Homo sapiens: one gene and its partner. The protein of the gene in region 2 interacts with the protein of the main gene of each other region in a pairwise test. Each region holds a gene or a part of one and is shown on either strand. Other genes may lie near its edges. The genes, in order: CCS and CZIB.

Evidence for each region.
Region 1: the proteins of CZIB (region 2) and CCS interact in binary tests that used the Homo sapiens proteins (3 or more experiments, as listed by UniProt).

The regions. Positions count from the first base shown.
Region 1 is NC_000011.10:66,602,980-66,606,600, reverse strand, and holds the end of CCS (copper chaperone for superoxide dismutase), read right to left. Parts: intron 1,263-3,621; coding exon 1,185-1,262; intron 1,113-1,184; coding exon 1,009-1,112; intron 900-1,008; coding exon 746-899; 3' UTR 582-745; downstream 1-581. UniProt on the Homo sapiens protein: Delivers copper to copper zinc superoxide dismutase (SOD1).
Region 2 is NC_000001.11:53,217,511-53,225,781, forward strand, and holds the start of CZIB (CXXC motif containing zinc binding protein), read right to left. Parts: upstream 3,125-8,271; 5' UTR 3,066-3,124; coding exon 3,060-3,065; exon of another isoform or gene 2,850-3,059; intron 2,835-2,849; coding exon 2,751-2,834; exon of another isoform or gene 2,291-2,750; intron 1,414-2,290; coding exon 1,357-1,413; intron 986-1,356; coding exon 904-985; intron 694-903; coding exon 662-693; intron 1-661.

The DNA of each region.
Region 1 (3,621 bases), on a different chromosome or scaffold from region 2:
GCTACCGTGCCCAGCCTCAAGCCAGATTATTTTAACAGGGGGATGCATTAGGAGGATTCGGGAGCATCTCTTCAATCCCAGGCAGGAGGCAGCTGGCCTCACGAAAGGCTCAGAGAGGGGACTCCAGAGTGACTGGGATTCTCCAGCAACTCTTAGATTCTCCCTGCCTCATTTTTCCTCCTTAGCCGACTGGCTTTTTCTGATGCTCAGTCAATAAGGCAGGGAGAAGAGGGCCACCAAAACTTCCCATATTCCCATGTTATGGGTCCAACCACAGGAAAAAACTAAAGCTGGATCTGCCCTGATTTCTCAGGGAAAGCATGGGCCACCATGGGTCAGGTGTCCATTTTGGTTCCAATCAGCCATAGTGAGGGGTTGGGGGAGGCCACAAACAGAAATTTGACTGTAGTGGCTCTTCATTATGGCTCCAAGGAGGAAGATGGGGACTTCAGTGTGTGTGTAGGTTTGAATTCAGGTTTGTTTGGCTCCAATGCTAAGGGGTGGCCCTGATACAAAGGAAAGAAGCAGAGCTATGTTCACCAAGCCCATAAGGGGCATGGAGACAAGCACAAAACACCAAGTCCCAAACGAAAATAAAACTTTCATTTGCCAAGGGAACACCACAGCAGCTCCTGCCCTGTACTGAGCTCTCCAAAGACTGGGCAGGCAAAGTCCCTCTGGCCCCCTCTGGAAGTGGAAAGTGCTCGCCCTGGAGGACAGCAACAGAGCCAAGGTGAGGTCCTGCTCAAAGGTGGGCAGGGGGCTGCGCTGACTCCTTTCGGCCCTTGCCAGCGATGGGCCGGCCTCGCTCCTCCCAGATGGTGAGGCCATCGCAAGAGCAGATCTGCTTGGGGTTCTGGAAAAGGCCAGCGGAGCGTGCAATGATGCCACAGGCCAACCTGCAGAAGAATGTGTGGTCAGGGGTGGGTACCTGTTTGGCCCCCACCCCTGGGTTCCTCATGCACCATCCGCAGAGCACAGCCTCCTACAGGGGCCGACACCACTCACCTCTCCCCGGAGTTCCCTGTGATCTTGGATAAGGGATGGCCTCCCCGGCCCAGGTCATCTTCTCCCTCATCAATAATCAGGCTGCGGCCAATCACATCCCACACCTTTGAGGGGAGACGACAGCTTCAGATGATGGACCCTGTTAGGAAGGGTGCCCACCTTCTTTTCCACCTTACCTTCAGCTGCTCATCCTCCATTCTGAAGATGGCGCGGCCGTCAGCATCAGCACGGACATTGCCCAGGTCTCCGCGGTGCTGGAATGAGATCCAGTGTGTGTATAGGGGATGTGTGCCACGTGGTGCCAAGCTGCTATCTTCTGATTTCCTGATTCCGACGCCTCTTCCTGCTTCCCTAAAGTACCCATTTCCTCCTGTGGGTACCAGTCTCGTAGGATCTGAGCTCCCCAAGGACTGGGCAGGCAAGGTCCTCTTGGCCCTGTCTGGAAGTGGAAAGTGGTCCAGGAAGTCCCGGACCATCTGAACACTCCCTCCCTGGAACTGAAATCCTGGGCAGGATGACAGTGGGCTGAAAAGAGCCAGTGGAAGTTTCCCCTGCCTGTGCAGTCATTCCCATTGGATCAGACTGTTTTTCCGGCGAGGCAATTGCCCAGCTCTGCTTCTCAGCCTCCAGTTAGCTCAGTTGTGCAGCCTCCTGATGGCTCTGTGAGCCCTTGGCTGTCTTCAATTCCTATAGGCTTAAGTTGGCCAAGCTTGGCTTCCCTGACCATCATAGGCAGCCAGTGTCATTTCCCTGACTCCCAGATTCCAGGAACAGAAGGAAATGCAAGGGGCAAAGGGCCTGTCCTAGCCCCTCGAAGCTGGCTCTGCCCTCCTTCTCCTTTGACGGTAATAAAAATTGTCATAACACACCTATGAGCACCTCCTAGGTCAGACACACTACCCAACATGGCAGGGAGTATGCAGGTCACCATCCTCAAGGGACTCAGAACATGGTGGGGGCCCAGATACAGAACAGACTAGGGGTGATGACACACAGGGTGAATACAACAGTTGGTGTGTTTTGGGGTGACAAGGCCTTACTAGTGAGCCACAGAAACCCACATCTGTGCAAATAAATTGTCCCCAACCTGACATTTTGGGCAGAAACAAGTGCCTGTGCCAGTACAGGTGGGCTCCCATGACCTTGCTGCTGAGTAACCAGGCATCTCACTGTGCCACCAACTGATGGGCAGGAAGAAGTGGCAGTTCTGCTTTATCTCGTTTTCCAGAGGGATATCTGCTGCCTGCACCTGGTACTTTTTTTTACGCCCTGCGTTGGAGATTTGAACAGTAGAAAGATCAAGAAGGGGGAGGGGATACAGAGCCCTGAAGAGCGGTTTTTTTTGCTTGTTTTGTTTTGTTTTGATACAAAGTCTCATTGCAATGCCCAGGCTGGAATGCAATGGTGTGATCTCGGCTCACTGCAGTCTCTGCTTCCCGGGTTCAAGCAATTCTCCTGCCTCAGCCTCCTAAGTAGCTGAGATTACAGGCACGCGCCACTACGCCTGGCTAGTTTTTGTATTTCTTTTAATTAATTAATTTATTTATTTATTTATTTATTTATTGAGACAGAGTCTCACTCTGTTGCCCAGGCTGGAGTGCAGTGGTGCGATCTGGGCTCACTGCAACCTCCCCACCCCCCAGGTTCAAGCAATTCTCCTGTCTCAGCTTCCCGAGTAGCTGTGACTACAGAGCACGCCACCATACCTGGCCAACTTTTGTTTTGTTTTGTTTTGTTTTGTTTTGTTGAGATGGAGTCTTGCTCTGTCGCCCAGGCTGGAGTGCAGTGGCGCGACCTCGGCTCACTGCAAGCTCCGCCTCCCAGGTTCACGCTATTCTCCTGCCTCAACCTCCCAAGTAGCTGGGACTACAGGCGCCCGCCACCACGCCTGGCTAATTTTTTGTATTTTTAGTAGAGACGGGGTTTCACAATGTTAACCAGGATGGTCTCGATCTCCTGACCTTGTGATCTGCCCGCCTCGGCCTCCCAAAGTGCTGGGATTACAGGCATGAGCCACTGTGCCCGGCCCAACTTTTGTATTTTTAATAGAGACAGGGTTTCACCATGTTGGTCAAGCTGATCTCAAACTCCTGACCTCAAGTGACCCATCCGCCTCAGCCTCCCAAAGTGCTGGGATTACAGGCATGAGCCATTGCACCTGGCCTAATTTTTGTATTTTTAGTAGAGACAGGGTTTCACCATATTGGCCAGCCTGGTCTCGAACTCCTGAACTCAAGTGATCCGTCTGCCTCGGCCTCCCAAAGTGCTAGGGTTGCAGGCGTGAGCCACTGTGCCCGGCTGGAGGAGCGGCCTCAAGGCAGGGGGCAGCCTGGACAGTGTGGCTGGAGGCATGACCCAGCAGGAGTTCAGGGAAAGGCAGCCTTTCCAGGCTGTTTCCTCAGCACACAGGCAGGGGCAATAGGCAGGGGGAGTGGGGTATTGAATGTCCACATCAAGAAGCTAGGCCCAGCTTGTACTCTCAGGCACTGGGAGCCAAGACAAGTTTCAGGCAGGGGCATGGCCTGGTTACTCCAGGCTTCAGAACAATCCTTCTAGTGCAGTCTATGAAAAGTAAAGACTGGAGCAGGGTGAGGAGAGAACAGAAGGGAGCTT
Region 2 (8,271 bases):
TTCACTGTAAAGTAATTTCCTGCACACTGACCACATCTCTGGCACTGGTAAGGCACTTCTCTGTTAGGGCCCTAGTTCGATTCTTGTTTTTTGTATTTTCCACTAGATTATTATGTACGTGAAGGCGAGTCCTCATTTAATTTCTCTTTAACTTCAGGACAAAGCCAAGAATTTGGCACAACTCAAGATACTTTAAATAAATACCAAATAAGGAATAGGTGAATACATATAACTGGCTTTCTTTAAACAAACAGATCCAAAGCACACCCTCCCTCACCTTTGGGCTAACTTGTTAACACTGATGATATAAAGGATGGGATGCACCAAACGACTACCCCACCCATGGTTTCAGAGAAAGCTTGCTAGTCCCCTAAAATGAAGACAAGGCAAGTGCTCTCAGTGATGCAAACTGAACAGCTAGGTTGTGTCAGAGGTCCCCTGAGCTCTCACAGCCCAGCCCTCATAAGAAGGCACTGCAAGAGGCAATATACCAAGCACTCAGTGTACAGTGGATAAATGACTGAGTCAAAGAAGAACTAAGTTCATGAGTGAATGTCCTATGGCAGGTCACTCTGATGCAGGCATGACTCTAGAACCCAGACCTACTAACTCCAGTTAGGATTTAAGCCCACCATCCCTGCCACTACAGCAGCAAACTTACATTGTAAGGCTTGATGGTGCTGCTTAAAATCTCTGAAATAGAAAAGAGAACACAAAGTTGACTTGAGTCCATACCCTCGCCCCAGCCAGGTGCCCACATGTGGCCCTGAAAAAGATCACGCTGTACAGGTGTCGGCATCTTAGGCCTGACTCCACCCTCAGGTAACATGAGTCTACTTTCAGCCTGGTGCCAGGAAGCTGTGGGCCACCCTGGCAGAACTCAGTACGCACAGCCTGACCTACCGATGGAATTTTCTCTTGCACACAGCTTGCACTTCTGGACCATGGAAGCACTGCCACGGCCCCCCTTCAGTGCCACACTGTCCTGGCAAAAAGCAAACAGAACTTTCAGTCACATATGAATTAGATGTACAGTCCTGAGGAGATCGAGCCCACCATTTATTGTCCACTTAAAGAGACCAAGACCCAGAAAGGGTAACTTACTAGGACAAGACTCCTGGGAAGGCTTCCTGAGGAAAATAAAAAAAGGGCTTCCCCTTGATTTTGAACTCTGCCTCATACCTCAAAGATGCCTATTGAATCCAGTGCTGATCACACTGACACCTACCCTCCCAAACCACAAAAAGCAGGGAGCAAAGAACTGGAGAGATGAAGGCCAGTTTCCCCAAATCCCTGCCCAGAAGTGTATGTGTGTTTGTGAGTGTTTATGTTGGGGGTTGGGCGGGGAACAGTTACCATCAGCCGGATGTACTGCCACTTGTCCGAAATCTCACCACAGTTGCCACATTTCATCTTTGGGGAAAAAGAATGTTAGTAAAGCAGCTGGCTCTGCTGCACAGACACCAAGGAAAGGGTAAGAACAGTGGGAGGTGGGCAGGCTCATGATCTACCTTCTTGATGGCAATCTCACTTCATCCCTAACACCTGCCCCAACAAGGACAAAACTAGAACTATCTCTGGGCAAAGGATAGGTAAGGCTGTTTCCTATGCCGGCGTGCCCACCCTCCTCTATGAAGTGCTCAGTGTGGCCGGGGATTCAAGGCACCTGTGGTGCAGAAATGGTTTCAGCGGAGGTGAGGGGGGGGAATATGGAGAGATTTGTTAGAAGATACAAAATTACAGCTATATGGGAGGAATAAGTTCTAGTGTTCTATAGCACTGTAGGATGACTATAGCTGACAATAATATATAGTTTCAAATAGCTAGGATATTAAATGCTCCCAACACAAAGAAATGATACACGTTTGAGGTGAATATGCTAACTACCTTGATCTGATCACAATACATTACATTTATCGGAACATCACTATATACCCCATAAATATGTACAATTCTGTGTCAATTAAGAAAAAAAAAGAGAAATGGCCTCAGCAGGCCCCCGACCCACTCTGCTTGGTTAGCTTTATGTTCCCACAGGCCCTGTATGTCACTGGTATAAGCACTTATCACTCTATTGTTACTCTATTTTTCTGTCTCCTTCACTCGATTCCGCTTCTTCAAGCCAAAGAACAGATTCTCCCAAGTAAGCCCTGGTATTCAGGCTTCAAAATCCTGGGAAACAAAAGTAGTCCGGAGGCAGCTTCCCGAAAAACAGGGCTTTTGAGAGGTACAGAAGGATGCTGGGATTTTTGACCAGGAGTAAAACAGAGCAGAAGCTCTGGGATCTGGAAGAGTGAAGAGCCTCGAACTGCTGGGGAAGGGGAGGCCTCTGTAGACCATGCCACTAGGGTACCAGCTTTACCAGTGTGGGAGGGCTAAGGAAGGGTGGATTACGCACAAAATTAAACTATTTCACAATAAAGAAAACCAAATCAATAAACGAAAGGCGAACTATTCACCTTATTAAATAATCACAAGCGTCCCTTCAAGTAGCATTTCGTTTAGTGTCCATTTACAGACCACGAAATATTTAACACAGGGAAGAACTACAAAATGAAGCTTTCCAAGACTGCCAATTAGAGATAAACCAATACACTTTAATAGAAAGCAAACGTAAAATTCTAACTAGGAAAACCCCGAACACTTAATGTGCCTGGTTAAATATTTTCTCATACTGCCGGAGAGAAGGCTCCGGTTCAGCACTGAGATCAGGACGGGCCTCCTCTCCCCGGGCCCCGCCCCGGCCGCACCTTCAGGTACCACCGGAAGTCCTCGCCCACGGGCCGGAGGTTGGTGATGTTCTCCAGCGTGGCTTTGAGTTGCAGCGCGATTTTCTGAGGGGGAGGGCCAGAGCGACTGCGTCAGCCGTGCCTGCGCAGCCCCACGCCTGCCCGACCCTCCCGCATTCCCAGCCGTGGGTGCCACAGGGAGACACTCCTTCTGCCTCCTGCTCCTTCAGCGCGCACCCACTCGCTTCATCTCCTCCTGGCGCGAGCTGTTGCCTCCCAGACCCTCGCCACCTCCCCTCCGTGTCCCCGCGGCGGGCGGCCTCCCCTCACCCCCATGGTAGCCCTCTCCGCCCGGTGCTGGCTGCGGCCCTTGCCGTTGCTTTCCGGCGCGTCGTAAAAGGCGGGTGCCGTCTGCGCACCCTCAGTAGGGCGGGGCCGGGGCCGGGCCGCGGGGCAGGGACTTCTGCGCGCCGCTGCTCGCCTGGCCCACTGGGCTTTTCGCATCTGGGGATCTGGGGCCAGTGGAGGTCAGCCAGGTCCGCGAGCAACCTGTGCTCAGGCCAGCGGAAGCCTGACTCCAGGATTCGGTGGTGCCACAGACAGTTACTGAACGCCAATTTTGTGCCTGCTTTAAGCGAACAGGACAGTTCCTGACCCTCAGTTCTTTCCAGGCTCTTCACTACTCTGCCTGCCCTGGAACTTCTCAGATCACGTCAGCTCCCTCTGCCCAGGGGAAAAGCTACAAAAGGAAGAGTTCCAAGACTGCCAAATAAAGATAAACCAATACGCTTTAAAAAGTAGAATGTATTGGTTTATCAGATTTGGGGATGATGCCTTTCTTCAAACTGCCCTTTCCTGTTTCACCCAAGAGACCTGGTTTCTAGGCCCTTCTCCAGAGTTTGCCCTGTGTCCACATCCTTCTCACTGTGGTCCTTGCGACTGGACATTCCCCTTCAGCTGGCTCTTTTTTGGGAGCCCACCTGGCTTATCCTTCTCTCATAACGTTTATTGAACTTTATTTTACCTGGCCTCCTGTCCAGGCTACATCTGAGACCATGCAGGAGCTGTGGAGATTAACGGTAAAAGGAACAGCACATTCAAGACTCTTCTAGGAGGTGGGGCAAGATAGCCAAATAGAACCCTCCAGTGATCCTCCTCCTCCTCTTCCCTGGCAGGAACACCAAACTGAACAACTATCCACACAAGAAAGCACCTTCATGAGAACCAAAACTCAGGTAGCAATCACAGTAGCTGGTTGTAACGTCACATCAAGATATAAGGCAATGGCTGGGTGCGGTGGCTCACACCTGTAATCCCAGTGCTTTGGGAGGCTGAGGCGGGCAGACCACCTGAGGTCAGGAGTTTGAGACCTAGCTGGCCAACATAGTGAAACCCTGTCTCTACTAAAAATACAAAAATCAGCCGAGTATGGCAGTGCACACCTGTAGTCCCAGCTACTCCGGAGGCTAAGGCAGGAGAATTGTTTGAACCCGGGAGGTGGAGGTTGTAGTGAGCTGAGATCATGCCATTGCACTCTAGCCTGGGTGACAGAGTGAGACTCTATCTCATAAAAGAAGAAAAAAAAAGGAACAAGGCAATGAAGAGGGTAGGAAAGACAGTCTTGAATTGCTACCACCACCCCTCCCTCATCCTCTGGCAGCACCTGGCTGCCTGGCATAGAGAGAGAATCTGTGTGCTTATGGGACTTTGCATTGGAACTGAGTTTTGCCCTGTCACAGTGGAAAGCAACTCAGGGCAGAATTCAGCTAGTGCCCACAGAGGAAGCACTTAGAGAAACCCTAGCCAGAGGGGAATCATCCATCCCAGTGGTCAGGTTCTGGCGAGCCCCACCACCACTGGCTAAAGTGCTTCAGGGTCCTAAATAAATTCGAAAGGCAGTCTAGGCCACAAAGACTGCAATTCCTGGGCAAGTCCTGGTGCTGTGCTGAGCTCAGAGCCCGTGGACTTGGGGTGCACACAGCCTAGTGAGATACCAGTTGGGGAGCCAAAGGAGTGTTTATGTCACCAGTCCCCCAACCCCAGGCAGCACAGCTCACGGCTCCAGGAGAGACTCCTTTCCCTTAGAGGAAAGGAGAGGGGAAAGTAAAGAGGACTTTGTCTTACAGCTTGGATACCATCCCAGCCACAGTAGAATAAAACACCACGCAGAGTCCCGAAGCCCCCTTGCCAGGCTCTATCTCCCAGATATTTCTAGAGCTACCATGGGCCAGAAGGGAACCCGCTGCTTTGAAGGAAAGGACCCAGTCCTGGCAGGATTCATCACCTGCTGACTAAAGAGCTGTTGGGCCTTGAATAAACATTTGTAATAGCCACAGTACTGGGTGAGGCCCAGTACTGTGCTGCCTTCAGGTGTGACCCAGTGCCTTCCCAGTAATGGTTGCCACAGGGAGAGACTCCTTCTGCTTAAGGAAAAGAGAGGAAAGAGTTAAAAAGGAGTTGGTCTTGCAACTTGGGTACCAGCTCAGCCACAGTAAAATAAAGCACCAAGTAGGTTTCTAAAGCCCGGACTCCATGCCCTAGCTCCTGGACAGCATTTCTAAACCCACCCTGGGCCAGAAGGGAACCTGCCACCCCAAAGGGTAAGACACAAGCCTGGCTGGATTCACCACCTGCTGACTAAAGAGCCTTTGGGCTTTGAATAAACATCAGCAATAACCAGGCAATAGTCACCATGGGCCTTGGGCAAGACCCACTACTGTGCTGGCTTCAGGTTTGACACAGCACAGTTCCAGCAGTGGTGGCCACAGGGGTGCTTGTGTCACTCCTCTCCCAACTCCAGGCAGCTCAGCATGGAGAGAGAGACTCCATTTATTTGGGAGAAAGTAAGGGAAGATAACAAGAGACTCTGCCTGGTAATCCAGGGAATTCTCTCGGATCTTACCCAAGACCATCAAGGCAGTACCTCTGAGTCTACAAGAGTCACAGCATCGCTGGGTTTGGGGTGCCCCCTAATGCAGTTACAGCTGCAGTGACCAAATATTTACATCACAACACTCATTTCCCTTTGAGTACTTGGAAAAGCCTTCTGAAGAAGGATGAGTACAAATAAGCCCAAACTGTGAAAATTATGATAAATACCTAATTATTCAATGCTCTGCATTGACCAACAGTCACAAACATCAATACCATCCAAGAAAACATGACCTAATCAAATGAACTAAATAAGGCACCAGTGACCAATCCCAGAGTGACAGAGATATGTGACCTTTCAGAGAATTCACTGTCACTGAGAAAGCTCAGTGAAATTCAAGATAGCACAGAGAAGGAACTCAGAATCCTGCCAGATAAACTTAACAAAGAGATGGAAAAAGGAACTCAGAATCCTGCCAGATAAATTTGACAAAGAGATGGAAATAATTTTAAAAATTAAATAGAAATTCTGGAGCTGATAAATTCAACTGATACACCAAAGAATGCACCAGGGTCTCTAAACATGAGAACTGATCAAGCAGAAGAAAGAATTAGTGAGCTTGAAGGCAGGCTGTTTGAAAATACACAGAAGAATTGAAAGAAAAAATAACAAAAAAGGATGAAGTATGCCTACAATATCTAGACAATGGCCACAAATGGGCAAATCTAAGAGTTATTGGCCTTAAAGAGAAGGTAGAGAGAAATTAGGATAGAAAGTTTATTCAAAGGAAGAATAACGGAACTTTCCAAACCTAGAGAAATATATAAATATTCAAGTACAAGAAAGTTATAGAATACCAAGCAGATTTAACCCAAATAAGACTACCTCATGTCATTTAATAATCAGACTCCCAAAGATCAAAGATAAAGAAAGGATCCTAAAAGCAGCAAGAAAAAAGAAACAAATAACACACAAAGAAGCTCCAATGGGTCTGGCAGCAGGCTTCTCTGTGGAAAGCTTACAGGCCAGGAGAGTGGCATGACATTTAAAGTACTGAAGAAAAAAAACATTTATCCTAGAATAGTATATCCAGCAAAAATGTCCTTTAAACATGAAGGAAAAATAAAGATTTCCTAGACAAACAAAAGCTGAGGGATTTTGTCAACACACCAGACCTTTCCTTCAAGAAATGCTAAAGAGTGTTTTTCAGTCTGAAAGAAAAGGATGTTAAGCAATGAGAAATCGTCTGACGGCACAAAACTCATTGGGAATGGTAACTACACAGACAAATGCAAAAGATTTTAACACTAATTGTGTGTAAACTACTCATATATTGAGTAGCAAGACTAAAAGATGAACCTATCAAAAATAATAACTTTTCAAAACATAGACAGTATAAGATATAAATAGGGGCCAGGCACGGTGGCTTATGCCCATAATCCCAGCACTTTGGGAGGCCGAGGCAGGTGGATCGCTTGAGCTCAGGAGTTCAGGGGCAACATGGTGAAACCACATCTCTACTAAAAATACAAAAAATTAGCCAGGCATGGTGGCATATGCCTATGGTCCCAGCTTTTCGGGAGCCTGAGATGGGAGGATCGCTTGAGCCTGGGAGGCGGAGGTTGCAATCAGCCAAGATCACACCACTAAACTCCAGCCTGGGTGACAGGGCAAGACCCTGTCTCAAAAAAAAAAAAAAAAAAAAATATATATATATATATAGATAGATAGACAGACAGACAGACAGACAGACAGACAGATAGGCTGGGCACAGTGGCTCACACCTGTAATTCTAGCACTTTGGGAGGCTGAGGTAGGACGACGGCTTCAGCACAGGAGTTTGAGACCAGCCAAACCCTGTTTTTTTCTTTTGTTTTTTTTTTTTTTTTTTGAGATGGAGTTTCATTCTTGTTGCCCAGGCTGGAGTGCAATGGCATGATCTCGGCTCACCGCAACCTCTGCCTCCCAGATTCAAGTGATTCTCCTGTCTCAGCCTCTCGAGTAGCTGAGATTACAGGCATGCACCACCATGCCAGGCTAATTTTGTATTTTTAGTAGAGATGGGGTTTCTCCATGTTGGTCAGGCTGGTCTCAAACTCCTGACCTCAGGTGATCCGCCTGCCTCGGCCTCCCAAAGTGCTGGGATTACAGGCGTGAGCCACCATGCCCGGTCTCTTTTTATTTTTTATTTTTTGAGATGGAGTTTTGCTTTTGTCGCCCAGGCTTGAGTGCAGTGGCGAAATCTCGGCTCACGGCAACCTCCAACTCCTGGGTTCGAGCGATTCTCCTGCCTCCGCCTCTCGAGTAGTTGGGATTACAGGCGTGCGCCACCACAGTCGACTAATTTTTTATTTTTAGTACAGATGAGGTTTCACCAGGTTGGCCAGGATGGTCTCGAACTCCTGACCTCAGGTGATCCACCCACCTCAGACTCCCAAAGTACTGGGATTACAGGGTGAGCCATTGCACCCGGCCAAGAATACTTTACTAAAGTTTTTTTTGCCTCAGAAAACAAAAGACTCTTTTATCACCTGAGGTCCCGTCACTTCTTTAAAGTTTAGAGTGACTTTTTTTGATGTCTACTTTACTACCAACTTGCTTCATTGCCCCAAGTACTCTTATAGGGGGAGGTGCACTGGAGTCAGGAACCCTGACATCTCAGTGCTGTTC